Linked DNA regions of Homo sapiens. The protein of the gene in region 1 interacts with the protein of each later gene in a pairwise test. Each region holds a gene or a part of one and is shown on either strand. Other genes may lie near its edges.

Region 1 (7,269 bases):
AAAATTAGCTGGGCATGGTGGTGCACACCTGTAACCCCAGCTACTACTCGGGAGGCTGAGTCATGAGAATCACTTGAACCTGGGAGGTAGAGGTTGCAATGAGCCAAGATCGCGTCACTGCACTCTAGCCTAGGCGACAGAGCGAGACTCCGTCTCAAAAAAAAAAAAAAAAATACAATTCAGCTGGGCACGGTGGCTCACGCCTGTAATCCCAACACTTTGGGAGGCCAAAGTGGGCAGATCACTTGAGGTCAGGAGTTTGAGACCAGCCTGGCCAACATGGTGAAACCTCATCTCTCCTAAAAATAAAAAAGTTACCCGGATGTGTGGCATGCACCTGTCATCCCAGATACTCGGGAGGCTGAGGTAGAAGAATCACTTGAACCTGAGAGGCAGAGCTTGCAGTGAGCAGAGATTGTACCACCGCACTCCAGCCTGGGTGACAGAGGGAGACTCTCTCAAAAACAACAGCAACAACAAAAAACCAAACACAATTTACTGGGAGCTTGCTTATGCTAGGTACAGATCTGTGTGCTGGGGACAAAATAAGACAAGTCTTCCCAAGTATTGCACTGTTTTAAATTTTCCCCTGATACTTAAGTTTCTCCCTAGCCTTTGTTGTTTTCATTGTCCTTCTGTGGCCACTTTCCAGCTGCATTAACTCTTCTTTTTGTGTTCCTCAATATTAACAGCTTTATTGAGATATAATTCACATACCATATAATACACCCGTTTAAATTATACAATTTAGTAGTTTTTAGTATACTCACAGAGCTGTACAACCATTCACATAGCTAATTTTAGAACGTTTTCTTTTCCTTTTTTTTTTTTTTTTTTTGAGCAGGGTCTCGCTTTGTCACCCAGGCTGGAGTACAGTGGCTCACTGCAGCCTCGACCTCCTGGGCACAAGTGATCCTCCTACCTCAGCCTCCCGAGTAGCTGGGACTACAGGTGTGCACCACGATACCCAGTTAATTTTTGTTTTTATGTTTTGTAGAGATGGGATCTCCTTATGTTGCCCAGGCTGGTCTCGAACTCCCGGGTTCAGGTGATCCTCCCGTCTCAGCCTCCCAAAGTGCTCAGATTACAGCCATGAGCAATCACACCCGGCCTAGAATGTTTTGTTTTGTTTTGTTTTGTTTTTTGAGACAGAGTCTTGCTCTGTCACCCAGGCTGGAGTGCAGTGGCGTGATCTCGGCTCACTACAAACTCTGCCTCCCGGGTTCACGCCATTCTCCTGCCTCAGCCTCCCAAGTAGCTGGGACTACAGGCGCCCGCCACCGCGCCCGGCTAATTTTTTGTATTTTTTAGTAGAGATGGGGCTTCACCGTTGTCTGGATCTCCTGACCTCGTGATCCGCCCGCCTTGGCCTCCCAAAGTGCTGGGATTACAGGCGTGAGCCACCGCGCCCAGCCTCCTAGAATGTTTTCATTACCCCAAAAGAAACCTGTGTCTAGTAGCAGTCACTCCATTTCCCCCCTCCTCCTTCAGAGACCTTAATCACTACTCTACTTTCTATCTCTATGGATTGGCTTATTTTGGACATTTCCTGTAAATGGAATCATACAATATATAATCTTTTTGTATCTAGCTTTTTTCACTTAGCATTATTATTTTCTTTTTCTTTTCTTTTCTTTTCTTTTTTTTTTTTTTTTTGAGACAGGGCCTTGCTCTGTCGCTCAGGCTGGAGTGCAGTGGCGCAATTTTGGCTCACCGCAGCCTCAACCTCCTGGGTTCAAGAGATTCTCCCACCTCTGGCTCCCGAGTAGCTGGGATTACAGGCGTGCGTCGCCACATCCGGCTATTTTTTTTTTTTTTTTTTTTTGTATTTTTAGTAGAGATAGGGTTTCACCACGTTGGCCAGGCTGGTCTCGAACACCTGACCTCATGTGATCCGCCCGCCTCCGCCTCCTGAAGCCTTAGGACTACAGGAGTGAGTCACTGTACTCAGCCAGCCGCATGATGTTTTCAAGGTTCATCCATGTTGCAGTATGTATCAGTACTTCATTCCTTTTTTGGTCTAATAATATTCCACTGCATAGAGAGACCACATTTCCTTTAACCATTTCTCAGATAATGGACATTTGGGTTGTTTTTACTTTTTGACTATTATGAATAATGCTGCTAAGAACCATTAGCATGTACGTTTTTCTGTGGACCTAGGTTTTCATTTCTCTCGGGTATACACCTAGGAGTGGAATTTCTGGGTCTTATGGTAACTCTGTATGTTTTAACATTTTTGGGCCGGGCGCGGTGGCTCACGCCTGTAATCCCAGCACTTTGGGAGGCCGAGGTGGGCGGATCACGAGGTCAGGAGATCGAGACCATCCTGGCTAACACGGTGAAACCCGTCTCTACTAAAAATACAAAAAACTAGCCGGGCGCGGTGGCGGGCGCCTGTAGTCCCAGCTACTTGGGAGGCTGAGGCAGGAGAATGGCGTGAACCCAGGAGACGGAGCTTGCAGTGAGCAGAAATCGCGCCATTGCACTCCAGCCTGGGCGACAGAGCGAGACTCCGTCTCAAAAAAAAAAAAATTTTTTTTTTTAAGAATTGTCAGGCATTTTCATAGCAGCTGCATCATTTTACATTCCCACCATTCATGTATGAAGATTCCAAATTCTCCACATCCTCACCATCTATTTTCTTTCTTTTTAATGTTACCCATCCTTGCAGGCGCACAGCGGTATCCATGGATTTGATGTGCATTTCCTTGATAGTTAATGATGTTGAGCATCTTTCATGTGCTTATTAACTCTGGAGGTAGACCTGCCAGGCCTTTTCTAATGAGGGACAACCATGGCTTTGTACCCCAAGAACATTTTTATTGAGTTGCTTTGTGTCTAGATCATTAGGAGAATTAATTAATACTTTCTCTTCCAATGAAGCTCAGCTGCGTCCTACATCGTGAATGAAAGGCTTTCTGTACATTTTTCCAAAAAAAACCTAGGACTATTATGGATAAGAAGTGACATTATCTGAGCAGCACTTGAAGCAAGAGAAATACATACTCTGATGCATTATTTCAGTCTAAGGAAGTGGCCTGCCACGCACTCTCTCTCTCTCCGTGTGTTTTAATCTAATATAGCACAACTTGTCGAAGCAAATCTATAATGTATATAAATAACAGAACAGTCTTAGGTCCTCATGAAGAGCGAACTGACTTTTTTATGTTTAAAATCTTAAATACTGGTTAAGTTAGAGGTGAGATTAAAAAGTGTAGGAAAATCGGCTGGGCCCGGTGGCTAATCTCAGCACTTTGGAAGGCCGAGGTGGGCGGCTCACCTGAGGCCAGGAGTTCTAGACCAGCCTGGCCAACACAGTGAAAACCAGTCTCTACTAAAAATAGAAAAAATTAGCCGGGTGTGGGGCGGGCGCACGAAGTCCCAGCTACTAGGGAGGCTGAGGCAGGAGAATCCTTTGAACCCGGGAGACGGAGGTTGCAGTGAGCCGAGATCACACTATTGCACTCCAGCCTGGGCAAGAGCAAGACCTTGTCAAAAATAAAAAAAAGGTGTAGGAAAATAAACTGTCATCCAGTACAGCTGAAGAAATCGATACCTTAATTTACAACCTCAGTTTCTCTGTCCAAAGGCAATTCCAAGACTCGAGCAAATTCTTTTATTATGCTACGATTTTGGTTATTTTGAATACAGCTTTTCAAAGAGCCCTTGGGATTTGAGAGCCCTTGGTTTTCTAAGTGTTTTCAATAAGTCTTGTTTTTAAAGGCCGCGTCCTAGCGAGTGCAGCTGCCGCTCCTTACCGGACCCACGAGTGAGGAGCCCCGAGGTCATCACCGAGCATGAACGCGGGAACGTCTGGGAAGGAAATCTGAGGCCCTGCTCTGACGGTCATAACAAAGGCCTTCGAGCCAACCGGCGTGTTCAAATTCACCACGGCCCTTCCCGCGCTCCCCTCCCCGGAAACTTGACCACCTAGCCCAGAAAGCCGCAGCAGCTTCCTCAGGGACGCTATCTCCCATTTCAAACACCCAACCGAGAAAGCAGCGCCGCAGCGCGCCTTCCGCCACGCCCAGGTCCGCAGGTCTTCGCTCGGGGCGGAAAAGAATCCTCCCCGCGCACTCCCAGCCAGGAGGAACGCCAGAGGCCCCGCCCAATCCCTGTCGCTTCATTGGCTCTGGTGACCGGCCTCCCGAAAGTCGGCTTCCTATTGGTCGTCGTGGCCGCCGCTCTGCGCTTTTACCGGGGCACGCGGCGAGCGTGACCACGCCCCTTACGTCCGGACGCTCGGTCGCCTCCCGGGGCGCGGTAATCACCGCCCAGAGGGAAGGAGGTCGGCAGTGTGAGGAGCTGCTATGGTGCTGAGTTTCCTGGTAGAGCCGGCCGAGCTGAGGCGGTCGCGGCCATGAAGGTGAGGGGCCGGTGGAGCCGGACAGACCCTCCTCGCCAATCCTATCCTGCCAGGGCACCTGAAGCGCCTCCTTTCTTTCCGCCTTAGCGGTTACCTAGTCGTCATCTCGGAGAGCTGCGCTGAGGGGGGTCGCTTGCCCGGCTTCAGGTGCCCCAACCGAGCCAGGGCAGGCTGCCGGACCCTCTCGAGCTCCTCCAGTGCCACCCCCGTCAGCGACCCGAGCGGTGGGGAGAAGCCGGGCGTCCCTAGCGTTCGCGCCGGGTGGGCCCCTCTCTGCGCCGGGCCCTGTGCGCCTCCTCGGGGGCCTGAGGCAGAGCCGCCAGGGCTCGCCTGAGCCTCGGTCCCTTGGCGCGCGGCGTGCCCTTTCCCGCCCCGAGTCCTTGAACTAACCCAAGTGTTGGGGACATCGTGGGACCGAGGAGAACAGGAGGGGTGCAGGGGGTGGTGAGGCTAGGGCCAGGCTAACGGGTTAAAGAACTCTCAGGGTGGGGATGCCACCCGGAAGGGGTGCTTCGTAGGCTGCACGTCGGGGCCGCGAACTAGAGAAGGCTGGATGTGCCTCCATCGCCACTAGGTAAACGCAGCAAGGAATTTGGCAGCTTGAGTTCTCCAAGGTGGGAGTGAGAGCGTGGGAGCATTACTGATGAGAAGTTGAAGAAAAGGGGAAAGGGGAGCGGGGTTTCCGGCCTACTTCTGAGAGATGATTCTCAACCCGATCACTGAGAGTTCTGAAGAGCTTTGTGAACAGCAGTCAGTTCAGGGTATTGATTCATTTGCCGAACTCAAACCAAGTGGGATGAGTCATAAGGTGATGATAACTTTCAGACCTAGATGGTTTCGTTAATCTCAGTGCAGAGGTGTGCTGGGGGTGGGTAATCTAGCAGGTGAGCTGCTAGATTAACGCTGTCTCCATAAAGCGTCAAAGATTTACTATAGAAGATTGAAAAAGAGTGTCAGCTGGTCACAGAAATTCAGCACATGTTTTGTTGAACGTTTTCTGTGCGTTAGCCAAGAGGGAGACATGGTGAAGAGAAGTAATTCAAAATACAGTCTCATCCCTTAGGAAGGCAGTTTACCATTCAAAAGAAGAGTTATTTGTAAGTAACCATATTACAAGGCAGAAGGCTATAGGTATCAAAAAAAAAAAAAAAAAAAAGGCAGGGACAAAACACAGGAGCCAGAAAGGATACTTCTGGCTACAGAAAGCAAGGAATATTTTTGGAATAGGTAACTTTGGAACTGTGCCTTGAAGTATGAGGATATTGTAAAAGCTTATTTTTAACTTTCCAGTTTAGTTATAAAATATTATTACAGCTTGAAATATCTATTAAAGTATCTAGAAGTAGCTTTATTTCCTGAAAACCACCCTCTGCTGTGTTAAGATCCAAAAACAAAGCAGGGATCTTTATATATAATGCCTCGAAGAATCAGTATCTTTATTAATATTAAATTTGTGGCCCATTAAGGAACTAGCTATCGAAGGAAAGAATTAGAGACAGGTCCAGTGTTGAAATTTTTAAACAAGTTCTTTGAAAACAGACGTGTGTTTTGAATTGAAGTGGAAGGTACTACTTTCTAAGATGAAATTTTAGAAACAAAGTTTGGTGGCAATTGAAATTATAGAAAAGATACGTATTTTCAGAAGCAAAATATGGACCTGAATAGACATCAGCCTGTGCCAGATGACAGTTATAAATGATGCTTTTGTTTTTGTGAAACTGGATTTACACCATTGAGGATTTGGGCTGTTAAATGTTTATTATTTAACTTAATGTTGATTTATATTGAAATTGTTTAATTGTGGGTATGCTCATCTGTAGATTTCTGGGCAGAGACTGATTCCTGATGTCATGGAATGCTAACATGTGAATGTTCATGTAAGGAAATACTTCTTTCTGTGGAATTAAAATTACATTAAAAGCTAAGCAAGTATACCTGGCCGGGTGCAATAGCTCACGCCTATAATCCCAGCACTTTGGGAGGCCAAGGCAGATGGATCACTTGAGGTCAGGAGTTCGAGAACAGCTTGGCCAACATAGCAAAACCCTGTCTCGATTAAAAATTATTTTAAAAAGAAAAAAAGGAAAAAAAAAGTTAAGCAGTTAAAAATAAACAAGAAAAGCTAAGCAATTATATGGATAAGTACATGTTCACTCAAACCTGGAGCAGCTGGTTTTAGTATATGTACGGAATGGGTATTTACTTTCTCCCTTTGGCGTTTTGGTTTGGTTTGGTTTGGTTTGGTTTAGAAACTGATGTTTTGAAATAGGTCTTACCTCTCAGACTCAAGTAACTTTTTAACCTTGCAGTAACATCCAATCAACTTCCTATAAGGGATTAAAAAAAAAAATCCAAATTGGTGCCCTGTGTTAATTTGATTTAATCCTCTTTCCCATTTTTCCTTATTTATATTGATCTCACCATTAATTGTGCTAATCTGGGTTCTTCCAAGCTCAAAATGAGATATCAAGGAGAAAGTAATCTACTGAATGTAATTCCTTTTCCTTTTTTTTTCTCTGAAAGGTGGGGGAGTGGTACTAAGGATCAAGTATACTGTTAAAAGAAAACAAAAACCCAAGCATGAGGAAGGTAACATTTGTATCTATAGCACATGTTATTGTAATAATCGATCAGTTTGGCCAATGTCTTGTCTAAAAGTATTACATTTTAGAGTTCATCATCTGTTTTTGCAACCTGCTTAATGTCCAAATGGTATGAGAGAAATAATTTAGGATGTAGAATTCCTTCCTTTGTGGTATATGGTCGGATATTTGGTCACTAAGAAAGAGTTAGGTCCCTGCATATTGTATTTCAGTTGAAGCAGCAGTTTTGATAAGAAATCCTTTCACATTCTAAGGAGCATATGTTTCTCAAATGGCTCTAAATAGGATAAAGAGGCC
Region 2 (7,026 bases), on another chromosome or scaffold:
ATTGTGGCGTTGCATTCTAGCCTGGGTGACAGTGAGACCTTACCTCAAAAAAGAGAAAAAGAAAATACTGTAAGTCAAAATGCATTTAATATACCCAGCCTATTGAACATCATAGCTTAGCCAAACCTACCTTAAATGTGCTTAGAACCCTTATATTAGCCTACAGTTGGGCAAAATCTTCTAGCATAAAGCTAGATGATTTAATAATGAATAATATAAAAGATAATTATTTTACAATAAAATGTCGAATATCTTGTAATTTATTGAATACTGTACTAAAAATAAAAAAAACAATAAATACTTGAAGTAGAGTTTCTACTGAATGCTTATTGCACCATTGTAAATTTGAAAAATCATTACTTTGAGCCCTCATTAAATTGGGACCTTCCATATGTCTGTGCAGTCCACTTTGATCCAATCTCTTCAGGCCTTTTTTTTCTTTGAGACGGAGTGTCACTCTGTCGCCAGGCTAGAGTGCAGTGGTGCGATCTTGGCTCACTGCAGCTTCTGCCTCATGGGTTCAAGCGATTCTCCTGCCTCAGCCTCCGGAGTAGCTGGGACTACAAGCGCACGCCACCACAGCCAGCTGATTTCTGTATTTTTAGTAGAGATAGTTTCACCATGTTGGCCAGGATGATCTTGGTCTCTTGACCTTGTGATTCACCTGCCTTAGCCTCCCCAAGTGTTGGGATTACAGGCGTGAGCCACCGTGCCCAGCCCTGCCTTTTTTTTTTTTTTTTTTTTTTGAGACAGAGCCTCACTCTGTCGCCCAGGCTGGAGTGCAGTGGTGTGATCTCAGCTCACTGCAGTCTCCACCTCCCAGGTTGAAGCAGTTCTGGTTTAGATTTCCTGAGTAGCTGGTACTACAGGTGCACGTCACCATGCCTGGCTAATTTTTGTTTTAGTAGAGATGGGGTTTTACCATATTGGTCAGGCTGGTCTCAAACTTCTGACCTCAGGTGATCCACCCACCTTGGCCTCCCAAAGTGTTGAAATTACAGGTGTGAGCCACTGCGCTTGGCCTAAAGGACATTTTGGGAACCGGTGTTAATGTCTATTGAAACCTTTTATTTTTGGAATATCAGATTTTGAAAGATAAATTGACCATTGGAGGTTATATGTTACATAGGTTTGGGAATTTCCTGTTTCTAGTTTGCTGCTAAACCAGAACTCTGAAGTCTCAATGTTTTTTTTTAAGCCGATAGGAAAGAGAGATTTTCATTCTGAATCTTTGTTTTTCACAGTTGAGGCTTACGAGTAGTCATCTTGTTATTTTTAAAACACTTCATAGTGCGGTTTGCGCTTGTCTGACAGAATGGTTGGGTTGGCTCAATACTTTGATATTTTTCTTTTTCGTCTTTGCCGTAGTATTTTTTTTTTAAGTTATGCATCTAAATCAAGACAGAATCACATTTCTTTGCCCCAAAACCCTTTTGCCTAGAATTATGTTCTTTGGAAACCCTAGCGTTTGAAATAAGTTGCTACTGTGGTAAGGGTAAATTTAATTTTCAGAAAAAAGCTGTTCTGACTTATTTTTCTTCCCCATTTAGTTTTTCCATGGTTTGGACTGGATATCGGTGGAACTCTGGTCAAGCTGGTATATTTTGAACCCAAAGACATCACTGCTGAAGAAGAAGAGGAAGAAGTGGAAAGTCTTAAAAGCATTCGGAAGTACCTGACCTCCAATGTGGCTTATGGGTCTACAGGCATTCGGGACGTGCACCTCGAGCTGAAGGACCTGACTCTGTGTGGACGCAAAGGCAATCTGCACTTTATACGCTTTCCCACTCATGACATGCCTGCTTTTATTCAAATGGGCAGAGATAAAAACTTCTCGAGTCTCCACACTGTCTTTTGTGCCACTGGAGGTGGAGCGTACAAATTTGAGCAGGATTTTCTCACAGTATGCATTTTTTAGCTTATATACAATTTATGGTAATTTGATTGTTAAAAATAATGCCAGTAGCAAGTGGTGAAATAATTTCCATCTCTAATGGAACTTGAATTTTCTTGAGTCAAATGAAGATTAAAGGTACGCTAGTGATAGGAGTTGGCCATCTAGAGGTGGTTGTCTAGTTCAGATGTATGGACGACAATCAGAACCACTAAAAGGGTAGCATTTTATTGCTCCTTTAGTATGAAAAATTAGGGCATCTGCTATACGTTGAGGAAGAAACTACCTAAAAGGAACATCATTAGATCATGAACAATGAGATTGAAATATAATTAAAATCATTTCATGTCATAAAATTGTTTTCAGTCTTGTCTACCACATAATTTCTCTTGTCTCCCTCAGTTGTTTGCTGGCATGTTCACTAACTGAAAAAAATAAGGAACTCTGGTCAAAAGTGGTGTTTTCAGGCTCAGGGCTGGTCTGAGATGGGTGACTGCAGAGCCCTCCTCTCCCAGAATGCTTTCTGATGTGTTCTGTGCTGCACACTTAACTGGAGTCTCGCCACCATGTCTGGCCCCTGGGGAATGCTGCCAGGCGCTCTATCTTGCTTTCATTGAGTGAACACTGGAGAACATTGTGAGCAAGACCTTGAGGCTAGGTCCTTTCAGGGTGGATGGTGGGGGTAGGCCGGAGAACTGACAAATGAATAAGCCAAGATCCTGACCGTCAGGGTGCAATACAGATTGAAAATGTCTTCAGTGACTGACTGTTTTTCTGTTGCTAAATGAGAGAATATTAGTCTGAAAGAGATTCTGCCTTTTTGTTTTGTTTTGTTTTCTTGAGATGGAGTTTTGTTCTTGTTCCCAGGCTGGAATGCAATGGCTCAACACAACCTCCACCTCTCGGGTTCAAGCGATTCTCCTGCTTCAGCCTCCCAAGTAGCTGGGATTACAGGCATGTGCCACCACGCCCGGCTAATTTTGTATTTTTAGTAGAGACAGGGTTTCTCCATGTTGGTCAGGCTGGTCTCGAACTCCTGATCTCAGGTGATCTGCCTGCTTCAGCCTCCCAAAGTGCTGGGATTACAGGGGTGAGTCACCTTGCCCGGCCCAGATTCTGCCTGTTATTCTGCATGTCTTTTAGTAGAGATGGGGTTTCACCATGTTGTCCAGGCTGGTCTGGAACACCTGACCTCAAGTGATCTGCCTGCCTCGGCCTCCCAAAGTGTTGGAATTACAGGTGTGAGCCACCGTTCCTGGCCTCAACTTTTTGACTAACATGCCTTGGAGTTCTTCCCACTTCAGAACATAAAGATCCTCTTCATTTTTGTTTTGTTTTGAGACGGAGTCTCGCCCTGTCACCTAGGTTGGAGTGCAGTGGTGCCATCTCAGCTCACTGCAACCTCTGCCTCCTGGGTTCAAGAGATTCTCCTGCCTCAGCCTCCCGAGTAGCTGGGTTTACAGGCGTGCACCACCATACCCAGCTAATTTTTTTTTTTATCTTTAGTAGAGACTGGGTTTCACCATGTTGGCCAGGCTGATCTTGAACTCCTGACCTTGTGATCCACCTGTCTCAGCCTCCCAAAGTGCTGGGATTATAGGCGTGAGCCACCGTGCCCGGCCGATCCTCTTCATTTTTAGTTGCTATACAGTGCTCCATAATACGAATAATAATTTAGTCATTCCTTTATTATTTAAATGGAATTAATTGATTATGAAACAGTTCAAATTTTGACTGCTAAAATTCCCCTCCCTCCCAAGAGGCTGTAGCTAGTTTAGATAGTGAAAAAAATCTTACCTTCTAACTGGATACTTTCAGCCTTTTGGCTTCAGTTTGTTAAATAATGTGTGGCCTCTTTTGATACTGCTCCAAAGCCTTGAGATGGTCCTCTGTCACAGTCCTTGTGGCTCCCACCCTGTGTCACAAGGTGGTTTCTGATAGTGCTGTGGCCTGAGCTTGGTATCAGCCCCATTGTCCCTGTAAGCAGAGATCTGAATTTCTGTTTGAAGGTTGATAAATGCTGTGGTTTTTTTTTTTTGTTTTTTTTGTTTTTTTTTTGGTCACACTTATTCAGCTGCTGCAGTAGTTTCTATGTAGAGTGTATTTGGGTCTGTAGTAGCAGGAGTCTGTCTCAGCACTGTGTCCCTAGGTTTGCTCCTAAATCTGTTCTGTAAAGCATGCACAAATAATACACATCTGTGAGTGCACTTTCATGGTTGTTTCACGTAGTGGGGATGCCTTATTGAATGGAATTTTTGTTTCTGTTGGCTTATTAAAAAGTCTGAGTACATTCTTATTTCATTACAGATAGGTGATCTTCAGCTTTGCAAACTGGATGAACTAGATTGCTTGATCAAAGGAATTTTATACATTGACTCAGTCGGATTCAATGGACGGTCACAGTGCTATTACTTTGAAAACCCTGCTGATTCTGAAAAGTGTCAGAAGTTACCATTTGATTTGAAAAATCCGTATCCTCTGCTTCTGGTGAACATTGGCTCAGGGGTTAGCATCTTAGCAGTATATTCCAAAGATAATTACAAACGGGTCACAGGTACTAGGTAAGTTGTATATAAAACTCACTGTTTATTCTTAGTATCCTAACGGGCTGAGTTTTCAGGTATTACATGTAACTACACCTTCAAGAACCTGTTAGGTGAAAGTGTTTCTGGATTATGCAAACAAATGTTTCTCTTTGAAAATTCTGATTTTATGACCTAGTTTTCTTTAATCTCTACTGTTCAAGATTTATTATCCTAGGTGTTTCTTAAAAGATCACATCAGCAGACTCATTGTAGCCTTTGCCCTCAGATAGTTTATGGTGTGCATACACAAAGTAGCTAAAGTTATTAGGCAGCATCTGTAAGGAGAAGGCACGGGAAAGGACCTAGCTCTGAAACCTGTGTAAATTTCATGCTTCCACACACATGTGTGTGTAGAATAATGATGTATTCTATGTATGTGATTTAGAAGTTGATATGTACTGATCAGTAGAAAAATTATTGAGGGAAGGTAGTATGAAAAGAGAGGATTAGCCGGGCGTGGTGGCTCATGCCTGTAATCCCAGCACTTTGGGAGGCTGGGGCGGGTGGATCATGAGGTCAGGAGTTCAAGACCAGCCTGGCCAACATGGTGAAACCCCATCTCTACTAAAAATACAAAAATTAGCCGGGCGCAGTGGCAGGCGCCTGTGAATCCCAGCTACTCGGGAGGCTGAGGTGGGAGAATTGCTTGAATTCAGAGGGTGGAGGTTGCAGTAAGCCGAGATTATGCCACTGCACTCCAGCCTGGGTGACAGAGTGAGACTCCGTCTCAAAAAAAAAAGAAAAGAGAGTATTAGGGCCAGGCACGGCAGCTTATGCCTGTAATCCCAGCACTTTGGGAGGCCGAGGCGGGTGGATCACCAGAGGTCGGGAGTTCGAGACCAGCCTGGCCAACATGGAGAAACCCCATCTCTACTAAAAATACAAAATTAGCCGGGCGTGGTGGCACATGCCTGTAATCCCATATACTTGGGAGGCTGAGGCAGAAAAATCACTTGAACCAGGAGGCAAAGGTTGCGGTGAGCCGAGATCGTGCCATTGTACTCTAGCCTGGGCAAAAAGAGCTAAACTCCATCTCAAAAAAAAAAAATGAGGATTAGATGGAAGAAGAGAATGTTTCGGCTTAAGGGTCAGAGGTCACTTCAGGAAAAACAGGCATCTAGGGATTGGGATAAACAATTTTTTTAAAAAAACAGTTGTGATTTAAATAGAGGAGTAATTTTTTTGTGACAAAACACGTTGCAGGAGGAGTATGTTTGGGGGTGTACTGATAAGCCAGGGTGACAAGGTGCTTGGATGAGAATGACTCAGGGAATGTACTTGGAGAAGGGAAAGGGAGGAGGTGTTAGCATGGCCCCAGGCGTGTCAGGCTAATTTGCACCTGAGGCTCTTCATACTTGGCAGACAGCCAGACTGCACTGGGGACATGGGCCCTGTGTTTTGTACTTTGCATGTTGGCTCACATGCATATGTACCTTAAAGGTGTATATCAGGCACCTTATCTTTTCACAGACTTGTTTCCTACCAGTGGCATTTGCATGATTGGGTTGGATATGTGAATATGGTTTTGGGGTTCATAAATGTTAACTTCTTGTTCTTATTTTTAAAAATGTTATAATACTGTGTTAATTGTTTTTAATCATAGTCTTGGAGGAGGAACTTTTTTTGGTCTCTGCTGTCTTCTTACTGGCTGTACCACTTTTGAAGAAGCTCTTGAAATGGCATCTCGTGGAGATAGCACCAAAGTGGATAAACTAGTACGAGATATTTATGGAGGGGACTATGAGAGGTTTGGACTGCCAGGCTGGGCTGTGGCTTCAAGGTAAGGGGGCATGTGTGTTCTAAGAAATACAGGCGGGCCGGGCGCGGTGGCTCATGCCTTTAATCCCAAAACTTTGAGAGGCCGAGATGGGCAGATCATGAGGTCAGGAGTTTGAGACCAGCCTGGCCAACATAGTGTAACCCTGTCTCTACTAAAAATACAAAAATTAGCTAGGCATGGTGGTGCGCGCCTGTAGACCCAGGTACTTGGGAGGCTGAGGCAGGAGAATCACTTGAACCCTGGAGGTGGAGGGTGCGGTGAGCTCCAGCCTAGGTAACGGAGTGAGACTCTGTCTCAAAAAAAAAAAAAAAAAAAAAAAAGACATAAAATAATAATATTGGGCATATTTTTTAAAAAAGCTCTATTGAGATATAATTTACGTACTATAAAGTCAGCTGTTTGAAGCGTACAATTTAGTGGTTTCTAGTATATTTACAGGATTGTGCAACCATCACTGTAATCCCAATTTTAGGACATTTTTATCATCCTAGAAAGAAACCTTGTGTTCATTAGCTACGACTCTCCATTCCCCCCACAGCCCCTGCCAAACAGTAATTTATTTTCAATGTAGGTTTGCCTCTTCTGAACATTTCATATAAGTGGTATCATACAGTATATGATCTTTTGTGATTACTTCTTCATATAGCATATGTTTTCAAACATTCACATTACAGTGTGAATCAGTACTTTATTCCTTTTTATTGCCAAATAATATTTCTTTTTTCTGAGACGGCGTTTTACTCTTTTTGCCCAGGCTGGAGTGCAAT

The links. Proteins that work in one complex are often made in the same cells at the same time.
Region 2: the proteins of RNF34 (region 1) and PANK2 interact in binary tests that used the Homo sapiens proteins (3 or more experiments, as listed by UniProt).

Annotation. Positions count from the first base shown.
Region 1 is NC_000012.12:121,395,850-121,403,118, forward strand, and holds the start of RNF34 (E3 ubiquitin-protein ligase RNF34), read left to right. Parts: upstream 1-4,268; 5' UTR 4,269-4,363; coding exon 4,364-4,369; intron 4,370-6,189; exon of another isoform or gene 6,190-6,246; intron 6,247-6,892; exon of another isoform or gene 6,893-6,949; coding exon of another isoform or gene 6,950-6,958; intron 6,959-7,269. UniProt on the Homo sapiens protein: E3 ubiquitin-protein ligase that regulates several biological processes through the ubiquitin-mediated proteasomal degradation of various target proteins.
Region 2 is NC_000020.11:3,906,376-3,913,401, forward strand, and holds part of PANK2 (pantothenate kinase 2, mitochondrial isoform 7 precursor), read left to right. Parts: intron 1-1,550; coding exon 1,551-1,903; coding exon of another isoform or gene 1,904-1,918; exon of another isoform or gene 1,919-2,250; intron 2,251-4,201; coding exon 4,202-4,455; intron 4,456-6,082; coding exon 6,083-6,259; intron 6,260-7,026.